2 separate regions of the Homo sapiens genome follow, and region 1 is linked to region 2. Evidence: fine-mapped expression QTL. A gene starts in region 2. The other region holds a variant in brackets. All regions are shown on one strand. Distances are from middle to middle.

The links. PIP is the estimated chance that this variant, and not a neighbour inherited with it, causes the effect. A credible set is the group of variants that fine-mapping cannot tell apart.
Region 1: its variant is the best candidate, but not a certain one, in a credible set for the expression of RNF4 in whole blood (TOPMed, PIP 0.89).

What each region holds. Positions count from the first base shown.
Region 1 is chr4:2,499,126-2,504,495 of GRCh38, reverse strand. It overlaps RNF4 (ring finger protein 4), which reads right to left. Exons shown (of 8, transcript NM_002938.5): 4 at 3,758-3,837. Among named protein-coding and RNA genes, the nearest start is that of RNF4, 33 kb to the right of the region's middle. The variant A/G (reference allele first, on the strand shown) is at 2,636.
Region 2 is chr4:2,466,901-2,472,270 of GRCh38, reverse strand. It overlaps RNF4 (ring finger protein 4), which reads right to left and starts at 3,165. Exons shown (of 8, transcript NM_002938.5): 1 at 3,013-3,165. LOC107986250 (a long non-coding RNA gene) reads left to right here and starts at 3,320. Exons shown (of 2, transcript XR_001741551.3): 1 at 3,320-3,871. RefSeq lists enhancers at 2,523-2,642, 2,687-3,259, 2,943-3,302 and a silencer at 3,453-3,622.

The DNA.
Region 1 (5,370 bases), 32 kb before region 2:
CACTTCACAAAAGAGAAAAATAAACATGAAAAGGTGTTTGATCCCATTTGTAATAAAAAAGCACAAATTAAAACCACAATGAGACACCACTGGACAAGCATCAGAATGGCTAAAATTAAAAGTGGCCATGAGGATGTGGAGAACCTCAAACACTGGCATGAATGTGAACTGCTCCCTCTTTAGAAAAGTCTGGCATTTATCCAGTAAAAATCAAAGACACTCACACCTCGGGACACAGCAGTGATGCCTTTTCTAGGCTATGCAATGCCAAAAATGAAAGTTCATTTTGAGGGAAACTAATCAAATGAGATGAACAAAGTCTCTCACTGCATCTTACCGCATTTTTCATTTCCCTTCATTTTTCAGGGGCTTTGAATTCCTTCGAAAGTTGGAAGAATGTGCACACCTGTATGCAAAGTTTCCAGTCTTTTTTTCTTTTTTGAAGAAGACAGGGTCTCACTATGTTGCCCAGGCTTGCCTTGAACTCCTGAGTTCAAGTGATCCTCCTTGCTCAGCCTTCCCAGTAGCTGGGACCACAGGCACAAAGTTTAGAGGGTTCCCTGATGTTCTGACGGCTACCTCTGGATCCTGGTATCCAGGGATTCCTATATTACAGGTACAGAGCTACTGGAGCTAAAGCAGTGCACTCAAACTATTCGACAGGTCCTGGCGGAACTGGTAAGGAAGGTTACCCCGCTTCCAGAATGAATACATTTATCCATTTTATACTCTCCTGCAGGTGCAGCCTAGGGTCACCCTGAACACACGATCCATCTACAGATGCCCCTTATCCTCAGTGACTAGCATTAGAGGCCTCCCAAACAGATCTGCTCAGAGGCAGAATTCCAAACTCAAGTATATGTCTCAGTGTAAATTCATAAACTGGCACTTGGACTTATTAAAATCAAAAATAAGTAGAGAATGATTAGCAAGAGCTATCAAGTCCAAAGCAGTTATTTTGTGGCTGACAACACTGAGGACAGTGTGAGATAAATCCACTGATCAAACTGACCAGTAGATCTGAGAGACCAGAACCTAGGACTCCTGCTTCCCAAGCCAGGAGCGTCTCCCTTTTACCTATCAGCTCTCCCTCTGGCCACCCATCCACTTTCCAGGGTAGCTCCCTCAACACCAATATTCCTGGTCCCCGGGTCTCCCAATGACTGCAGATCTTATAAAGGTTAACCAGACAGCCCCAGGTTAATTGGGAGTAGGACTGCCAACATGGAGCCCTAGCCCAGGGAAACAGAAGAAAGGTAGGGAAGTTCAGAGAGGAAGCCCTTTTAGCAAGAGCAGCTTAGTCATCAAAACAAAACAAAGCTGGCCAGTGTGGTGGCTCACACCTGTAATCCTAGTGCTTTGGGAGGCTGAGGTGGGTGACTGCTTGAGCCCAGGAGTTCAAGACCAGCCTGGGCATCACAGTGAGACCCTGTCTCTACAAAAATATTAAAAAATCACCACCACCACCCGACCCAAATTTAGTAGTGTATGGTGGCATGCACCTGTAGTCTCAGCTACTCAGGAGGATAATGTGGGAGAATCACTTAAGCTCAGGGGTTGGAGGCTGCAGTAAGGTGTGATCATGCCACTGCTCTCTAGCCTGGGCAACAGAGTGAGACCCTGTTTCTTTTCTTTTCTTTTTTTTTTTTTTTGAGACAGAGTCTTGCTCTGTCGCCCAGGCTTGAGTGCAGTGGCGCGATCTTGGCTCACTGCAACCTCCGCCTCCTGGGTTCAAGTAATTCTCCTGCCTTAGCCTCCCGAGTAGCTGGGATTACAGGTATGCATCATCACACCTGGCTAATTTTTGTATTTTTTTTTTTTTTTGAGATGGAGTCTCACTCTGTTGCCCGGGCTGGAGTGCAGTGACGTGATCTCGGCTCACTGCAACCTCTGATTCCTGGGTTCAAGCGATTCTCCTGCCTTAGCCTCCTGAATAGCTGGGACTACAGGCGTCCGCATAATTTTTGTATTTTTAGTAGAGACAGGGTTTCACCATGTTGGCCAGGCTGATGTCAAACTCCTGACCTTGTGGTCCGCCCACCTCGGCCTCCCAAAGTGCTGAGATTACAGGCGTGAGCCACCGCGCCCAGCCTGAGACCCTGTTTCTAAAGCAAAAGAAAACACAAGTGTGAAAGGGGAAATGATGTTGGTTTGTCAGCCAACAAAAGCCAATCAATCATTGTCTTCCTGCAGTCAAAATCCTAGCTCTCTCCTCAGGGTCTGGCAGAGAGAAGGCCAAGAAGACTGTGGTGAACACTGAGTATTCAAGAAAAACAAAAAACAAAAAACAAAAAAACTTCTGCAGACACCACTTTCCAGCTTTAATGAGCAACTGGTGAAACCAAGGTGTCAGCTGGGAAAAAGAAAGAGGGGAAAAATCAGTGACTGTGCTGTAGCTGCCAGCTAATATACCAAATTAGTTATCTTTCCAGAACTCCATGCAGGACACAGGGATGATAAGCAAAGTCATATGTGTGTATGTACCTCAGAAAACACGTTAATGAGACCTAAGCAGGGACCACGTACAACTAAACCCACTGCTGCTTATCTCAGATGGTTTTCCATCCCTGTCCTTTTCTTTGCATTGAAGTCTTGAAACTTCTCAGTATAACCCTATTCTGAAGTTCTCAGCACA[A/G]CTAAGAAGCAACACCTATGGGGTGTCCCTATTCAGATACCCAGGCATCAGCCAAACAGGATAACCCCAACACCAGTGAGCCCAGGGCCAAGGCGAAGACTCAGCTACTAGCAGCCCCCACACCCCACAGTCCTCCTCAGCAGCACTTACCACCCCACTGCCAATGCTGCCAAGTGTGCCCCCACCCCGACCTGTGTTCCGAGCACACTGTCAGAAAACACTCAAGTGGCATCTTCCAGAGGCAAACTTGCCCTTAAGATGCTGACCAGATTCCCAGACCTGCATGCACCATGAAACAGGTCTATCAGAAATAGCTTCTCCGTGTGTCCTCTGACCAGACAAGGCCTCCCTCCTGGCAGGCAGGACACGTATACACACGTCCCCTGCAGTCTGTAACCGGTGCCATGAGACAGGGACACAGGCAGCCTCCTGGGCTCCAGCCTCCCTGGCATCAGGACGCAGCAGGCATCAGGTGGCAATGCAGGGAGCCTGCATCCCCTGAGGCCATGCTAAGTAGCAGGCACTTTTGGAACTTGAGAGATTTCCCATGGGCAGTGCTGAGCCAACGTTCCCTTTCCTTTCAGTTGGGAGGGCATACACTCACAGTGACTGGGCACCATTCTAGGTGTCAGGCACTCAAACACGGCATCTGTTGTAAGATGTCTTACACCATGCCCTGCTGACATGAGTGACCTGTCCCCATTTCATGGAAAGTGAATGAGGCTAAGTCACATGCCCAAGGTCACACAGCTGGTGTAAACTGTGGAATCAGGGACTGAAGACAGATGTGGGGGTCTTGAGATTCTCCCCAAACCACTTTTGTGCCCAGGTGTGGCAAGGTCAGGTTACACAGACCTACTCCATAGGCGACAAGGCTATAACAAATGATTTTCCAGAAACATTTTTCATTTTGGGCTCTCGTCACTGAATGCATGAACTTCTTTGTTATTATTATTGTTACTGTTTATTTTCTTTCTAAAAGCTCAATTCCACAAGATGCATGAACTTCTTTAGCATAAGCTGTAACCTTGACTTGGAGTCTGTGACCAAGGCTGTCAGATGCTGGCACTGGCCAGGGACCCATACCCAAGAAACAGCCGACTCTCACACTCCAACACTTACCACAACAGAGTCATTGTGAGTCAGATCAACCACCACAGGCTCTAAAGATTCACAAGTGAGGTCCACAATTTCATCTCCAGCTTCAAAAGAAAGTATTTCAACAAGCATTAAGATTAAGAGGAAAGTAAGGTTGTATCCCTCTACACTTTAGTATGACTGCTAATGTTATAGGCTTACCCCAAACTAAAACAATCCTGAAGTATACACTGCAAAGAGCACCAGGACCAACACCTCCCTCAGGAGGGAAAGCCAGTAACCACCCTTCCAGAATTCTGCTCTGAGTGGGGAGGTATGGTTTTTACAAATGTACCTGGGGGGTTATGTATGTGTGCGCATGTGCATACCTCTATTCCACGGCATCCCACTTCCACACGGCTATGCCTCTGTGCCCCATCTGGGAGAACGCACCATGCATGCCCAGCCCCAGGCCTTTCTCTTTGGGATGGACTAGCCTGAAACCTCTGCTCCTCCCAGCAGGTGAAGCTGACCACTCTCACTTGGCCCAAGGACCAAAAGTCAGGCTTAGCTTAGTAACTTCATCGGTTAATCTAGGGCAAATTCTTTTTTTTTTTTTTTTTTTTTGAGACAGAGTCTCGCTCTGTCGCCAAGGCTGGAGTGCAGTGGTGCGATCTTGGCTCACTGCAACCTCCGCCTCCTGGGTTCAAGCAATTCTCTGTCTCAGCCTCCCGAGTAGTTGGGATTACAGGCGCCTGGCAGCATGCCTGGCTAATTTTGTTTGTATTTTTAGTAGAGATGGGGTTTCACCATCTTGGCCAGGCTGGTCTTGAACTCCTGACCTTGTGATCCACCCACTTCAGTCTTCCAAAGTGTTGGGATTACAGGCGTGAGCCACCGTGCCCGGCCAAGGACAAACTTTTAATTTCCATTTATCTCTCAAGTTTGTCTCCCTAGTTGGATGGAGAATAACAGTGATATATACTGATAGCTAGAACCTCAACATACAAAATGGGTTGCATCTGTTGTGAAGCTTGCCTTTCAGCCCTTAGGGTATACTGTGATGTCTACATGTGCACAGGATAAAGGTGAGAAGGACATGGACCAAACAGTTAACGTACAACTTCCATTTATATAAAGTAAAAAATGACGCACAACCATTTTTATTTCTGATTACTATTAATATTAATATTAAAAAGCACGGAATGGGCCAGGCACAGTGGTTCACACCTGTAATCCCAGCACTTTGGGAGGCTGAGGTGGGCGGATCACCTGAGGTTGAGAGTTCGAGACCAGCCTGACCAACATGGAGAAACTCCGTTTCTACTAAAAATACAAAATTAGCGAGGTGTGGTGGCACATGCCTGTAATCCCAGCTACTCGGGAGGCTGAGGCAGGAGAATTGCTTGAACCCCGGGATGCAAAGATCACGCCACTGCACCCCAGCCTGGGCAACAAGAGCAAAACTCCATCTCAAAAACAAACAAACAACAACAACAACAAAACACTAAATGAAGTTTTTTAAGAAACAGTATTGGTCTAATATTTGGGGAAAGTGTCTTGTAATGCATTTAACTTTTTTTTTTTGAGACAGAGTCTCGCTCTGTCGTCCAGGCAGGAGTGCAGTGGCACGATCTCGGCTCACTGCAACCTCTGCC
Region 2 (5,370 bases):
AGTAAAACATACTGTAAACAGATATGCTACTATACAGGCTTTCCTGTTTCAATGATCAGCACACAGTAGATTTTTGCATACTTCTTAAGGGCCCTAGGATTTTCAGAATGGTAAATGAGCACTAGTTACAACTTAAGTCACTGGCCACACTAGCCCCTAACAAGAGAATCAGACTGTCCTTTGAAGCCAGGCATTGACCTTTCTCTAGCTATGAAAGTCCTAGATAGTATTTTTTTTTCCATATAAGGCTGTTTCATTTACATTGAAAGTCTGTTGTTTAGTGTGGCCACCTTCATCAATTATTTTAGCTATATGTTCTGCATAACTTGCTGCAGCTTCTTCATCAACACTTACTGCCTCACCTTACACTTTTACATTACAGAGGTGGCTTCTTCCCTTAAACCTCATGAACTAACCTCTGCCAGTTTCAAACTTTTCTTCTGCAGCTTCCTCACTCTTCACAGAATTGAAGAGAGTTAGTACCTTGCTCCGGATTAGGCTTTCGCTTAAGGGAATGTCATGGATGGTTTGATCTTCTATCCAGACCACTAAAACTTTCTCCCTATCAGCAATAAGGCTGTTTGGCTTATCATTCATGTATTCATTGGAGTAGCATTTTAATTTCAAGAACTCTTCCTCTGCATTCACAACTTGGCTAACTGTCATTCAGCACAAGAGGCCTAGCTTTTGGCCTATCTCAACTTTTGATACGCCTTTCTCACTAAGGATAAACATTTCTTAACTTCACTTAAAGTAAGAGAGATTCAACTGACTGCTCCTTTTGCCTGGACACTGTAGGGTCACTGACTGGCCTAATTTCAATATTGTGTCTCAAGGAATTGAGAGGCCTGAGGAGAGAGACTGGGAACTGCCAGTCAGTGGAGCTGTTAGTACACACCCAACTTTTACCAATTAAGTTCACTGTCTTATATGAGTGCTATTCATGGTAACCCAAAACATTGATCACAGGTCACTATAACAGATGTAACAATGAAAAGGTTTGGGGCTGGGCATGGTGGCTCATGCCTGTAATCCCAGCACTTTGGGAGGCCGAGGCAGGCGGATCACTTGAGGTCAGGCGTTCGAGACCAGCCTGGCCAATATGGTGAAACCCCGTCTCCACTAAAAATACAAAAATTAACTGGGTGTGGTAGTACATGCCTGTAATCCCAGCTACTCCGGAGGCTGAGGCAGGAGAATCACTTGAGCCCAGATGGCAGAGGTTACAGTGAGACCGAGAACACGCCAGTGCACTGCATCCTGGGTGACAGAGTGAGATTCCACCTCAAAAAAAAAAAAAAAAAAAAAGTGTGAAATATTGTGAATTACCCAAACGTGACACAAGAGACACAAAGTGAGCACATGCTGTTGGAAAAATGGCTGGCATTTACAGACTTGCTCGATGAATCCTTGCTATAAACCTTCACCTTGCAAAAAAAAAAAGGCAGTATTTGCAAAACACAATAAAATGAGTTATCTCTTATTCCCTCCATCCTCACCCAGCTACAGGAGGACCACGACTGTTTACTGCTGTATTCCAAGCAGAAAGGTTGGCATACAGGAGACCTCAAAAATACGCTACTTTGATCTTGAGGAGAGTGAAAAATCTTACTCATTTTATGTACAAAGCACAGATGTGCATACATTATATAAAAAGAAATAGTTTACGTATGGCATTAAGATTTCATGAAGATTAGAAAAACAATGTTTACAAAAGGTCCTTACAAAGGTAGTAATTCAAGAAAAGATCAATAAACGATGTGTTAAAGTAAGATTTTTGGAAGCTCAAATTCAGGCAATACAAAAGCCAGCAATATATCTTGCTACTCGAATGCCTCTATTTCACCTCAAACTCACAGATAAAACTGAACCCAATATGTCCTTGTCCATTAAAAAGCAAATCACCAAGAAAGTAACAAAAGATTCCCTTCAATGTCTCTTTTATTGACAGTGGTCCCAAAACTCCTGGTCAATGAATTCAAAACCCAAATCTTGCAGGTAGGACTTAACCTCATCTGCTGCCAAATAGCTGGCTATGTGACCTTGGGCAGACCACTTCACTTTTCTGGACCTCAGTCTCCCCAGTCAGTTGGACAGTCTAAGCCAGGCTCCAGAGCTGAGACCCTACGTCTGGCTCAAGAACTTGGTGCAGAAACAGAACGAAGATTATTAAGTTTGTGAACGTCTATGGGAACTGACAAGTGAAAGACAAAAGCTGAAATCCCTACCAAAACGGCTTGCCCAAGCTCTATCCTTTTCCCTCTTCCCTCGATGGATCAAAGGCGGAAAAGCGGTGTTTACTAGCAACTCTGTTTCGGGTCGTGAGAATCTTCATACACCTGTCTATAGGCGCGCCAGAGCGGTGAAGGGCCCGAGCGGTGCAGGGCTGGGCCGCAAGCCTCACAGTCGCACGTTCCACCAACCACCAGCCGGGGCCCGGAAGCGCGCCCGGAAATCGAGGCCCTACTAAGTTTTAGACTGCGACCTCGGCGCCCCCACGGTCAGGCCCGCACCCGTACTCAGATCCTCCCGACCTACAAAAGGCCCCGCCACGCGGCCCACGCACCCCGGCAAACTCGCAGGCCCCACGATGGCGGGGCGGCGGCGCGAACACACAAAGGAGGCGTCGTCAGCGGGGAACAAAAACCCTGCCCGGGTCTTCCCCCTAACAGCACATCCTGCCCGACTTTCCAAGTGACCTTGGGGGCGTTCCTGCCCCTCCCAGAGTCTCAGTTTCCCTTCCTAGGCTAGGAACTAAGCCCCATGGCCGCGGCCCCCCAGGGTGAGCCGAGACCCAGACGCAGACCTCCTAACTTCTGTTGCCCGCGCCAAGCCGGGCTCGGTGCGCCCGCGCGGACGGCAGTGCGAGCGACCAGAGCTGGCTCGAGGTCCCGGGCTGCAAAGCCTCGGCTGGGTCAAGCCGCGCAGCGCGGCTCCCCCAAGAGGCGCGGGCCGAGGCCTCTGTAGGCCGCGAAGCTGCCTAAACCTCGCATCTGCAAGGCCCTGACTTACCGCTGCTTTCCCGCAAAGCTCGGCCTAACCTGGAGCTAGTTAGGTCCGCAGGCGCCACCGCCGGCGCACTCCGGAGAAGAAGCTCCTTCTTCAGCCGCCCAGGAGAGCTCCTCGAGAAAGATGCCGCCGCCTCAACAGCAACCCACTTCCGCTTCGGAGGCCTCGGCTCCGCCCCCCATCATGTCCCCATTGGCCGCCCGCCTACTCTACTTCCGCGGTCGGCCGGGTAAGGACAAATTTTTTAATCCTATTGGATAAGAAAACCATCTGTTACCACTTTAAAACGCGCCTCTTTCCGCCCCCGCCCACAATCGAGCGCACTAACTCGCACCTTCCGGCAAGAGACGGCGCGGGCGCGCCCCGCCCGCAAGGTTTTTCGGGAGTCACGGTCTGAGGGCGACCCGGGCGACCCGGTCGCCCGTGCCCGGCTGCCACTGACCGCTCCAACGCCGCCAGGGACGACCCGCCAGCTGCCTCCGGAGCCGAGCAGGCCCCGAACCTTCCCATTCCTAGATTTCCAGCCGCACAACAGCCGCGGTGCCCCTGGCTCGACGCAGCTGGCCGGAGGCGCGGAGCTGGTCGTTCGTCCCGCCCGCCGTTCCGCGCCCCTCTCCCGGCTCTTGTTTCCTCGCCTCTTAACGAGGCCTTTGTGAGGAAGGTTGCTGGGCCTTGGGACTCTGACGATCGGCTGGAAACCAGGCCTGGCCCTGTTTCAGCATCCCCGCGTGCCAAGCCCTGGGCCGGCGTGCGGGTCCCTGCCCCTGCGAGGAAGCTGGGACTTTTGCAGGCCTGGGTGGAGACGTGTACATAACAGAGGAAGAGTGTGGAGGATTGGAGGACTCAGGGCAGCACGGCAGAGGTGCATGCAGGTCCCCGGTCGGACTGGAGAATGGGCGGTGGGTTTCTTGAGCTCCAGTCCCTGAGCTCGACTTTGACGTGGGTTTAGCAACCAGGAAAAAAGCCCACCTTGTCCCTGCTGCCTGAGAATACCCAGACCTTAGTCCATGGCCAGCATCTCTGGTCCCTCGGCACCCTCAGGCAACGTGAAGGTCACCCCAAATGCCTTGGGTTACATTGTTTCCTTACAGTGAGTTTGTTTGTTTTAGTGGCGCGATCTCGGCTCACTGCAAGCTCTAACCTCCTGGGTTCACGTGATTCTCCTGCCTCAGCCTCCCGAATAGCTGGGATTACAGGCGCCTGCCACCACGCCCGGCTAATTTTCTTTGTATTTTTAGTAGAGATGGAGTTCCATCATGTTGGCCAGGCTGGTCTCGAGCTCCTGACCTCAGGTGATCCACCCTCCTTGGCCTCCAAAAGTGCTGGGATTACTGGTGTGAGCCACCTCGCCCGGCCACCTTACAGTGAGTTTCTAACCTCGAAAATGGAGTCAAATAACGGAATGACAAGGCAGATAGAAACCAGAGCATTAACGTTTTTGTGTTGCATTTACAAACAATATGTGTTTGCTATTTTTCGTAATTGTAAGGAAATCTGGCATGGTAGAGTATCTGATAGATAAATGTAATTCTCATGTAAAATATCTAAGTATTTGTGTTTTTTGTTTGTTTGTTTGTTTGTTTTGAGACGGAGTCTCGCTCTGTCGCCCAGGCTGGAGTGCAGTGGCGCGATCTCGGCTCACTGCAAGCTCCGCATCCCGGGTTCACGCCATTCTCCTGCCTCAGCCTCCCAAGTAGCTGGGACTACAGGCGCCCGCCACCACGCCTGGCTAATTTTTTTTTTTTTGTATTTTTTAGTAGAGACGGGGTTTCACCGTGTTAGCCAGGATGGTCTTGATCTCCTGACCTCGTGATCCACCCGCCTCGGCCTCCCAAAGTGCTGGGATTACAGGCGTGGGCCACCGCACCCAGTCTTTTTTTTTTTTTTTTTTTTTGAGACGAGGTGTCACTCTGTCAGCCAGGCTGGAGTGCAGTGGCACAATCATGACTCACTCACTGCAGCCTCGACCTCCCCAGGTTTAGATGATCAACCCACCTTGGCCTCCTGAGTAGCTGGGACCACAGGTGTGTGCCACCATGCCTGGCTAATTTTTTTGTATTTTTTTTTTGTAGACACTGGCTTTCGCCATGTTGCCCAGTCTTGTCTTGAAGCCCCGGGCTCAAGTTATCTGCTCACCTCGACCTCCCAAAGTGTTGAGATTACAGGCATGAGCCATCACACCCTGCCCTAAGTATTTGATTTTTGATAGCGACTGTAAGTTGAAAGGTATAACATTTTCCGAAGTTTGTGATTATAATTGGAGCAAAGAGAACTTAAAAGTTTAAAAGAAATGAAGACATTTAATATATCTATGAGAATTATTTAAATATTAATACTTGATAAGGCAGACAACTGAAATGC